Linked DNA regions of Homo sapiens. The protein of the gene in region 2 purifies or fractionates together with the protein of the main gene of each other region. This does not show direct contact. Each region holds a gene or a part of one and is shown on either strand. Other genes may lie near its edges. The genes, in order: TUBGCP6, NEDD1 and CEP97.

The links.
Region 1: the proteins of NEDD1 (region 2) and TUBGCP6 purify together in Homo sapiens (affinity purification with mass spectrometry; 3 studies listed by BioGRID and IntAct, with this or other methods). This does not show direct contact.
Region 3: the proteins of NEDD1 (region 2) and CEP97 purify together in Homo sapiens (affinity purification with mass spectrometry; 2 studies listed by BioGRID and IntAct, with this or other methods). This does not show direct contact.

The regions. Positions count from the first base shown.
Region 1 is NC_000022.11:50,238,507-50,242,160, forward strand, and holds part of TUBGCP6 (gamma-tubulin complex component 6), read right to left. Parts: intron 1,862-3,654; coding exon 1,698-1,861; intron 1-1,697. UniProt on the Homo sapiens protein: Component of the gamma-tubulin ring complex (gTuRC) which mediates microtubule nucleation.
Region 2 is NC_000012.12:96,941,660-96,945,313, reverse strand, and holds part of NEDD1 (protein NEDD1), read right to left. Parts: intron 2,738-3,654; coding exon 2,690-2,737; intron 1,755-2,689; coding exon 1,552-1,754; intron 676-1,551; coding exon 519-675; intron 1-518. UniProt on the Homo sapiens protein: Required for mitosis progression. Promotes the nucleation of microtubules from the spindle.
Region 3 is NC_000003.12:101,762,460-101,766,113, forward strand, and holds part of CEP97 (centrosomal protein of 97 kDa), read left to right. Parts: intron 1-25; coding exon 26-101; intron 102-2,387; coding exon 2,388-3,092; 3' UTR 3,093-3,654. UniProt on the Homo sapiens protein: Acts as a key negative regulator of ciliogenesis in collaboration with CCP110 by capping the mother centriole thereby preventing cilia formation. Required for recruitment of CCP110 to the centrosome.

The DNA.
Region 1 (3,654 bases), on a different chromosome or scaffold from region 2:
AATAAAGCAATAACTTGTAGGGCCAGTTTTTTTTTTTGTTTTTTTTTTTGAGACGGAGTCTCGCTCTGTCACCCAGGCTGGAGTGCAGTGGCGCAATATCCGCTCACTGCAAACTCCGCCTCCCGGGTTCACGCCATTCTCCTGCCTCAGCCTCCCCAGTAGCTGGGACCACAGGCACCCGCCACCACGCCTGGCTAATTTTTTGTATTTTTAGTAGAGACGGGGTTTCACTGTGTTAGCCAGGATGGTCTCGATCTCCTGACCTCGTGATCCACCCGCCTCAGCCTCCCAAAGGCCAGTTTTTAAACGTGTGAGGGATTGGCAGAGAGCAGGACCATGAGATTTGCTTTGACTGATGCACCAGCAGGAAGTGACACAGCAGGAAGGCCCTGGCAGTCAGGATAAAGCCACCACCACCGTGCTGGGAAGCAGGGAGACAGCCAACCCTGAGGGAATCTTCATGATGTCAGGAAAGCTCGCCCACCCGGGGGCACATGCTCCTGTCCAGGCTGCCAGAGCCCAGCCACTGCATCCCAGAGCACTCAGCTCCCAGCCAGCCCTGACCCTTTCACCCAACACTCCCCAAACCGATACCCACAGGATCACCAGTGGACTGGATGTGAACGGGGCATTCCATGGCCAAACATTTGGGGAAGTGCGTGTTTTTTTGTTTGTTTGTTTTTTGTTTTTGAGACAATCTCACTCTGTCACCCAGGCTGGAGTGCAGTGGTGCAATCTCGGCTCACTGCAAACTCCACCTCCCAGGTTCAAGTGATTCTTGTGCCTCAACCTCCTGAGTAGCTGGGATTATAAGCGAGCACCACCACGCCCAGCTAATTTTTGTATTTTTAGTAGAGACGGGGTTTCACCATGTTGCCCAGGCCAGTCTCAAAATCCTGACTTCAAGTGATCTGCCCGCCTCAGCCTCCCAAAGTGCTGGGATTACAGATGTGAGCCACCGCGCCCAGGCGAAATGCATATTCTCTGCCTGGGTTCTGGGAGTTATCAAAAGATACCACCACATTAAAGACTCTGAGAGGTGCTGAGTGCAGAGGCCTCTGGACCCAGGTGAGCCAGGGAGTGAGTGGCTACCGCATCCAGAGAGCAAGCTGCTGGTACCAGTCAGGAAAAAGCTGCTGCAGCTGGAGCTTCTCATCACCCAGACTGCCCCTCCCAACTCCTCCAGACACGGACGGAAAAGGTTCCGTGTTCATCAGCACCCCAATTCCTCTAGACATGAATGGAAAAGGCTCCTTCATCAGCACCCCATGCCCAGTGAGCATTTCTTCCTGGCACTAATCACACAGCCTGCCAGGCAGCTCTCTTGCTCTTAAGGACATAACTTAGCTGCCCCAACTGCTCTGCCTGGCAGGTGTGATCTGGTTACTGGCACGGGGAGGGGAGCTCTGCCCGACAGGTGTGATCTGGTTACTGGCACAGGGAGGGGAGTTCTGCCCGACAGGTGTGATCTGGTTACTGGATGGGGAGGTGAGGCCTCCTTAAAGGCTGTTAGTGCTTTCCCCTCTGCATCTCTCTTAACTCCCAGGACTCAGTCAATTTTGGACACTAGCTTAGGTTACTAACCCATCACAACTGCCTGGACCCCTGAGTACACAACGCCCCCCACACACCCCATCCAAGGCCACGCTCATGCAGGGGTAGGGGCACTGCATGCCAAGGCAAAGAAGGGCACACACCAGCCAACTCGCTCCCAGCACCTCCGCTTGCTGGCCTCATAGGTAAGTGCGGCTTCCCACAGGTCCACGTCTGGGGTCACGCTGGGCTCAGACTGGGAATCAGGAGTCAAGTTGGACGCTGACTGGAATCCTTCGTCTTCCCACTGATCCACACTCGGTGGGACCTGGAGACACAGGGAAGGGCAAACCGCCACTTATTGCTGTGTCCACGTTTCATCCAAGGGCGATGAGAATTTCAGGAACTTTATGCAAAGACCTAACAAAATGTTTCTTCTGTTTTTCTCAAGCGCATGTGTACCATACAATGTTTCCCACCAATGAGCCATTTAAGGAATTAAACAAAATAAGTCGTCAAGGCTGCCAATTTCCAATTCCATGTAACACATAAGCCTCAGTGGAACTTAGAGTGAAACTTTTTGAGATGCCTCAGACCTGGAAATTCCAATGTGGGGAACCCAGAATTAAAAAAATCACACTCAACATTAAAACACTACTGTACACCGGGGCCAGGCGCAGTGGCTCACGCCTGTAATCCCAGCACTATGGGAGGCTGAGGCAGGTGGATCACCTGAGGTCAGGAGTTTGAGACCAGCCTGGCCAGCATGTGAAACCCCGTCTCTACTAAAAATATAAAAATCGGCCAGGCGTGGTGGTGGGCACCTGTGGTCCCAGCTACTCGGGAGGCTGAGGCAGAAGAATTGCTTGAACCCGGGAAGCGGAGGTTGCAGTGAGCCGAGATTGCGCCACCACACTCCAGTCTGGGCGACAGAGCAAGACTGTGGGCAGCAAGCCACCCAGGTGCCGAGGCAAGAGACCGAGGGCACGAGCTGTTCTAGTACAATAAAATATATAGAACAAGAATAGTTACACTATAGATCATAAATATGATTATATATGAACGTTATTAATCATTAGTTTGTAGCAATTGCTCTTTATTCCAAGATTATAATAATCTTCGCTCTACAATTGTAACTTACGAGAAACCAGGCCATACAGAGACAGGAGCTGAAGGGGCAAGGTGAGAAGTGACCAGAAGACAAGAGTGTGAGCCTTCTGTCATGCCCAGACAGGGCCACTAGAGGGCTCCTTAGTCTAGTGGTAATGGCAGCACCTGGGAAGACGCCCATTACCTAGCGGACCTTGGTCTAGCGGTAGCGTCAGTGCCTAGGAAAAGCACCCACTACTTAGCAGACCAGGAAAGGGAGTCTCCCTTTCCCTGGGGGAGTTAGAGAAGACTCTGCTCCACCACCTCTTGTGGAGGGCCTGACATGACTCAGGCCCACCCGCAGTTATCCAGAGGCCTAAACGTCTCCCTGTGATGCTGTGCTTCAGCAGTCACACTCCTAGTCCACTTTCATGTTCCATCCTGTACACCTGGCTCTGCCTTCTAGATAGCAGTAGCAAATTAGTGAAAGTACTAAAAGTCTCTGAAATGCAGAAATAATGGTGTAAGCTGTCTCCTCTCTCTCTGCTTCGGCTGCCAAACAGGGAAGGGCCCCCTGTCCAGTTGACACGTGACCCACGTGACCTTACCTATCATTGGAGATGACTCACACTCCTTACCCTGCCCCTTTTGCCTTGTATCCAATAAATAACAGCGCAGCCTGGCATTTGGGGCCACTACTGGTCTCCACGTGTTGGTGGTAGTGATCCCCCGGGCCCAGCTGTTTTTTCTTCTATCTCTGTCTTGTGTCTTTATTTCTACCATCTCTGGTCTCCGCATATGGAGAGAAAAACCCACAGACCCTGTAGGGCTGGTCCCTACACAAGACTCCATCTCAAAAAAAAAAAAAAAAAAAAAAAAAAGAACAATCAGGCCGGGCTCACGCCTGTAATCCCAGCACTTTGGGAGGCCGAGGCGGGCAGATCACGAGGTGAGGAGATAGAGACCATCCTGGCTAACACGGTGAAACCCCGTCTCTACTAAATATACAAAAAATTCGCAGGGCGTGGTGGC
Region 2 (3,654 bases):
GCCTTAGAGTTTAAGCTAATGCAATATATATCCACAGAAAACTTCAAGCAAAATATAGATATTTATATGAGAGTTGATTGTAAACAAAGAGTTGCTTTGTGTAGATAACTCTTAGAGTTAAACCAAATATTCCTTTAAATGTGATGAAGTTTGTATGGGTCTGCAGCACAAACTCTAAGGATAAGACTTTAATATGAAAGAGAAAAAGACATTTTCAGGTAGTTAACCAACCCTTTTCAAAGGGTCCTACATAATAATTCTATCTCTACCATATTAAAGACACATATTACACTGAAAATCTAATTCACACCAAAAGATCAAATCAACGTACCTGAATTTAACGATTCATATCCATTTCATTGTCTTTAGTAACACTCACACAACAGAAGTGTCCACAAACTTTAAACTCTTTGAACATTTTTAGTCTATGATTACTCTATTTCTCCTTTACAAGTTAAATAATGGGGATGATTTTTCAATCAAACACTTTCAAACATCAGGAAGTTTCATGTACTTACTTGGAGTTGAGGATCCATTGATTGGGGGTTCACATATCAACTGGGCTTCAATTTCATTCTCTGGCTTTTCAAATTTCTCAGAATTTCTTGTTTGGTTAGATGATGGAGAGGTATTTAGATTTCCACTTTCAGCACCAGATGTGACCAACTTTGCTAACTTTATATTTAAAATAAATAATGACTTTAATATACAATTTTTTTACTCATATTACCCATATAATTTTTGCCTACTTCTCTCTTTTGTCCCAGTATGTAGGTTAATAGAAATGAAGGAAAATAGGAAGAGATATAGAAGAAGAAAAAGAAAAAGAGAACTGGAGGCAAAATAAAGTAACACTTACTAATCAAAAACAATCTCAACAATAACATGAGGAAAAGCTCATTTACTAAGCACCTGCTGTTAAGTATCATTTAAAATAGAGATAACTGGCAAAACAAAAACAAAAACACCATGCATGTGGTAACCAGTCAATAATATTTGCAAAATAAATCAAAAGATGTTTTTGTACTTCTTACATGGTATCTTTTCAATATCATTCTAAACAATAAATACGAAAATACAGACATATTGTATACCCAACTGGCTTGGCCTTCCTGGTAATTTTTGATCATTTTGAACCCTTACATAAAAAATTAAATTCTGTATTATATATATATATTTTAGCAGAAAGTAACAATGATAAATTCCATTCTCAGCACCATCAGTTTGCTCTAATGATTTAACCACCAACTTGATGTTGTATACTGCAATGAAATACACTTTAAAAGGATTCAGGGATAAACTGTTCTTGCACACTTTATCAAGATATATCAAGTATCTCATCTTAGAAAAATACTGCAACTTTCCATCTGCTGTAACCTTCAACATATCCAAAGCGAGATTTCAAAGTATTCTGTAGTTATTAAAATCTGACATCAAGACTTATGAATAAGTGCATAGCAATGCTAATAATTAGGATACATGCACTGGCAGCCACCCACTTTCTACTGATAAACACATACAGTGAGTTCAGTATCATTTTCAGGCAAATACCTGTTTGAAGGAGTCTTTAGATTCCTGTTTTCCCATATATATTTTCTTAGACTCAGCTGTTAGATCACGGTTTTCATTTTCCTCTTTCCCTGGAGATCCCATAAAAACATTAAGAGGACTAGAATGCAATACTGAAGTACTTGAAGTTACTGGATTTTTTCTTGGAGGAAACACTGAGTTCAACTGCGGTAGAAAGTCAAAGCCTGGAAAAGGGAAAAACTGCATGTGCATATGGTGTCCTCCAATTTTGGACATTGAAGAAAAGCATTTAACATGATAGGCAGATTAACATGGAAGAAGATATGGATCTGCATTCTGAAGACTGGTTTGTTTCTCAGATACACCCCGCAATTGATGTGTATTTTTGGGCAAAAGTCTTAAACTTTCTGTGACTATTTCCCGATCTACAAATGTAAATGATGATATCCATCTCCCAGAGTGGTAAGGCTTCAAAGATATTATTTGTGAAAATACTTTGAAAACAGCAAAACACAATGTTTTAGTCAGTATTAGTTCTTGATAACTGAAAATTGTTAATTTGGTATATATCTGTGGTATGTATCTTGGAAGGCAATTTCTGAGATGGCTTCTAATGACCCCTGCCTTTGGCGTCGCTATCCTTGGGTAATCTCCTCCCTTTGAACGTGGCTTGGACCTAGTAACTTGCTTCTAACAAAAGTAATATGAAAAAGTAGTGAGATGTCACTACCAAGATTAAGGTTATTAACATAATCTTAAGAGAGGGCTTCCATTTTGGATGCCCTCTCGAATTCTCTTGTTCACCGGCTCTGAGGTAAACCAGCTGCCATGTTGTTGGCTGCCCCATATATAAAGAAGCTCATTGGCATGGAACTGATATCTCCAGCCAACAGCCATAGGAATGAGCTTGGAAACAGTTCCCTGCCCAGTTGAGTCTTAAGTTGAATGAAGCTCTGGTTGACATCCTGATTGAAGCAGGAAGATAGACTTGAAGGCAAAGGTACTCAGCCAAGTCATGCTCAGTTCTTAATACACAGAAATTATGAGACGATAAATGTTTATTTTTTTAAGCCTCAAAGTGTTGGAGAGATTTGTTACACAGCATAGATAATACAATTCACTTTTCATTTTCACGAAAATACTTCTAAGTAGTTCTTACCATCTCCTTTGCCTATGGACTCATCACTTCCCTTGTTAACTACAGCATCTATAACAAATTAGAAAATCAAATTTTAAAACTAGTGAAAAAGAAACCATATCAATTTAGGCTTCTTATTCATTCCCCAAAGAGTTCAGAGACTAACAATCTTAAAAAGCTAAATATGAGTGATGTTAAAGGTAGGAGAATACTGATTTAAATTTCTCTTTTACATTATTTTAGCTTCATTCACACTTTAGCAGCAAATATGAACAGATAATTCTATAGTACAGTCATTTAATGAGGCAGCAAGGTATAGTGTAACAAGCCCTGGTGTAGGGGGTAGGTTATGGAGAGCTATAATCCAGTTCTGCCTATACCACTTAATAGCTTTGTGACCTTGGACAAGTCTCAGATGCAATTAAGTTTCAGTTTCTGCATCTATAAAATGGGGATAATGTCCAGATAAGCTCACAAAATTGCTTTGAGGATCAATTGAAATAATACAAAAATATTTTGCAAAGCAGAACAAAGTTTTATTAGTGTTTATTTCCATGGTAGAATATGTATAAGATTATTTTAATCCTGTAATATTCATTTGCCAGTCCATAACAAAAATTGTAAAATTCAAATTTAACAGGTGAATTAAAAATGAGCCAAAGTCATTAACGAATTTACTAGAAATTCAAATGGCCAATAAACACACAACTATATCAGGAGAAATATCATCTATGTGCATGTGTGTATATGTTCCCAGTAATTGCACAGCATGTACATGCACACTTTTAGAAGTTATTAGCTTCCTTATCAATACTTTGGAACCATAATGAATCTGGAGGGCGTATGACTCAAATGCTAGTAACATTTTTAAACATAGCAAAAGTAATTAAAGAAAAAAGTAATTTATTCATTTGTCTTAAAAACTATTAAAGAGAATTTAATTTATAACTCAAACACTTCCAAAAAGCCCCTTTGTACATTCTTCA
Region 3 (3,654 bases), on a different chromosome or scaffold from region 2:
AATAATGTGTTTTGAATTATTGTAGATTACGAAAAGAAAGAGATGAAGAACGTATTAAAAAATTTGTACAAGAAGAAGCTTTCAGATTCCTTTGGAACCAGGTAAACTCCCTCCTGCTGATTTACCTCATATATGATCAAATACAGATTCTATATTCATTGAGATAATCATAGAGTACTCAGGTGTATTAAGCACTCTTGTTCAAGGTTAAGGGTATGGCTTGTGTTCTTCGCCACTAACTGTGAACTAGGACAGTGAATTTTCTTGCATTTTATTTAATCTGAAGAAAAATATTCTGACAATTTTGACAAGAAAAACAAAATAGTATAAAGCAGGAGGAAAGTGGCTTAACTGAAGGCTGTTAGAGCTTTCCAATAGATACAACAACCCCAATTTGAAATTTCATGTAGCTATCGATCTGTCTTTTGGGAATATTTGAATGAATTGTGATTAAGATGGTATATGACTACAATATGCATGTCCTAAAAAGTATTCATAACTGTATAGGAGAGTATTTGAATCCTATAATAGCACACTTTAGGGACAGTTTAGGCAGTTGGTTTTACTAGCATTGTATCACATCAAATACTTCTTGATGATAATTTCTTGAAAATATTTTAATAAAATTTTCATTTCTTCTTTTTTATAGAAATGGGGTCTTGCCATATTGCCCAGGCCGGTCTCAAACTTCTGGGCTCAAGCAGTCTTCCCTCCTCAGCCTCCCAAAGTGAGCCACATCACCTGGCCAAATTTGTTATAATAGGATTTGACCTATAAAATGAAAAAATAATTATTGATTTGTAAAGTTTTGTAGTTACCAACAATAGAGGAATGGTTAAATTATAGAATAATAATACTGTGGAATACCATGGAATAGTTAAAAAAAATAAGGTAATGGTATTCACCAACATGGAAAGATCTCCAAAATAATACTGTTTAGTAAAAAAAAAAAACAGCACTAGCGCATTACAGCCTTGAACTCCTCAAGTGATCCTTCTGCTGCAACCTCCCAAGCAGCTGGGACTACAGGCACACACCAGTGTGCTCAGCTTCCCTGTATATTTGAAAATACGACCTAGAAAAAAGTCTGGAAGGATATGCATCAAGTTGCTGTCAGTAATTACCTTGGGCGGGGGGTCAAAGGGAAACTAAAAACTGTACATACTGCTTTCTTGTTTGCAGTTTTTACAGTAAAATTTTGGAATTTTTGTTATACTTTAGAAATTAGGGGTCATATTATCAAGAATTTGGTATGTTTTTAGGTATTTTAGAAAGTTGCATATACTATATTGTTAGCTAATACTTAAAAACTGTAATCTCTACCTGGGTATCTAAAATGAGACTTATTTTACAAGATCTACTTATTTCAAGGGCTCTAACCTGTCTTATTGAATAGATCTCATTATATCTTGAATACATTATTGACCCCTTATTCAGCTAGGCATGTGCTGTTGCGCATTATTGACCCCTTAGTCAGCTAGACATGTACTGTTGTGCTTCTTGCTGTTTTTCTTGTAGAAGCAAGAGAATTGCTTTGGCCCATTCCCACTCCTGGTGAGGGCCTTTTGTTACCAGGGACATGTACCATTTGTGCCAGTCTGGTTTTAGGCTTGGGATGCTATGGAAAAGATAAAGGGAGTCAGCAGTTTCTAGCTCCAGTTCTGCCATTTGCCAGCTTCATGACTGCTGGAAAAAAGAGCTCAAAGGAAAATTGTAAAATAGACAGGTGGGGTGTGGTGGCTTGTGCCCGTAATCCCAGCACTTGGGAGGCCAAGGCAGAAGGATTGCTTGAGCCCAGGAGTTCAAGACCATCCTGGGCAACAAAGCGAGACCTCATCTCTACAGAAAAAATTTTAAAAATTAGCCAGATGGACGGACACGGTGGCTCACGCCTGTAATCCTAGCACTTTGGGAGGCCAAGGTGGGCGGATCACCTGACGTCAGGAGTTTGAGACCAGCCTGACCAACATGGGGAAACCCTGTCTCTACTAAAAATAGAAAATTAGCCAGGTGTGATGGTGGGTGCCTGTAATCCCAGCTACTTGGGAAGCTGAGGCAGGAGAATTGCTTGAACCTGGGAGGTGGAGGTTGCGGTAAGCCGAGATTGTGCCATTGCACTCCAGCCTGGGTAACAAGAGCGAAACTCCATCTCAAAAAAAAAAAAAAAAATTAGGCAGACATGGTGGTGGGCACCTGGAGTCCTAGCTGGTTAGGAGGCAGAGGTGGGGTGGGAGGATCACTTGAGCCCAGGAGGTTGATGCTGCAGTGAGCCATGATTGTGCTGCTGCACTCCAGCCTGGGTGACAGAGCGAGACCCTGTCTCAAAAACAAACAAACAAAAACAACACTTTTTATTTTATAATACAACTGTATTCTCTGGTTTATAGGTAAGGTCTCTACAGGTTTGGCAACAGACAGTGGACCAGCGTCTAAGTTCCTGGCATACTGATGTTCCTCCTATATCAAGTACTCTTGTGCCATCGAAACATCCATTATTTACCCAAAGCCAGGAGTCCTCTTGTGATCAAAATGCTGATTGGTTTATTGCTTCTGATGTAGCTCCTCAAGAGAAATCATTACCAGAATTTCCAGACTCTGGTTTTCATTCCTCTCTAACAGAACAAGTTCATTCATTGCAGCATTCTTTGGATTTTGAGAAAAGTTCCACAGAAGGCAGTGAAAGCTCCATAATGGGGAATTCCATTGACACAGTCAGATATGGCAAAGAATCAGATTTAGGGGATGTTAGTGAAGAACATGGTGAATGGAATAAGGAAAGCTCAAATAACGAGCAGGACAATAGTCTGCTTGAACAGTATTTAACTTCAGTTCAACAGCTGGAAGATGCTGATGAGAGGACCAATTTTGATACAGAGACAAGAGATAGCAAACTTCACATTGCTTGTTTCCCAGTACAGTTAGATACATTGTCTGACGGTGCTTCTGTAGATGAGAGTCATGGCATATCTCCTCCTTTGCAAGGTGAAATTAGCCAGACACAAGAGAATTCTAAATTAAATGCAGAAGTTCAGGGGCAGCAGCCAGAATGTGATTCTACATTTCAGCTATTGCATGTTGGTGTTACTGTGTAGCATGTCTTTTGGGAGGCAGATATCCACTTAACTTTTCTTAAAAATACTTTCAGTTGCCTTTGCTTTTTTTTGGAGGGAAATACTCCCTACCCCTAATTTTGTTACTACTTATATAGAATTTGTATTCATGTCTTATATTTTTCAGATTCTAGATATTGAGCTGAGTTTTCATTTTGATTTTGTTAGCTTTTTACTTAGCTGTAAGGTACCAAACTATTTATATTGAAAGCTATATGCACTTTATTTCTTAACTGAATTGCATCAACAATGTTCCTGTTTCTTTCATGTACTCATTTACTTTCAAAAATAAGCTAGAATATATTAAAGAAAATAGAAAAAATTACCTTAAATATATAAATAAGAGAATTTTGGCCCTTCTGTGTCTGAGAAAATTAATTATATAGCAAGGAATGAAATTTGATAAAGCAAATATAAATGAGAAATATGAGGATTGTGAATTATTGAAATTTGCCAGTCTCCCTGGTGTAAAATGTTTTTTTAAAGCCTTTTTTCCTCCTTTCGGAGTCAAGGAAAGCCTTTCTATAAGCAAATTAAGGAAGAA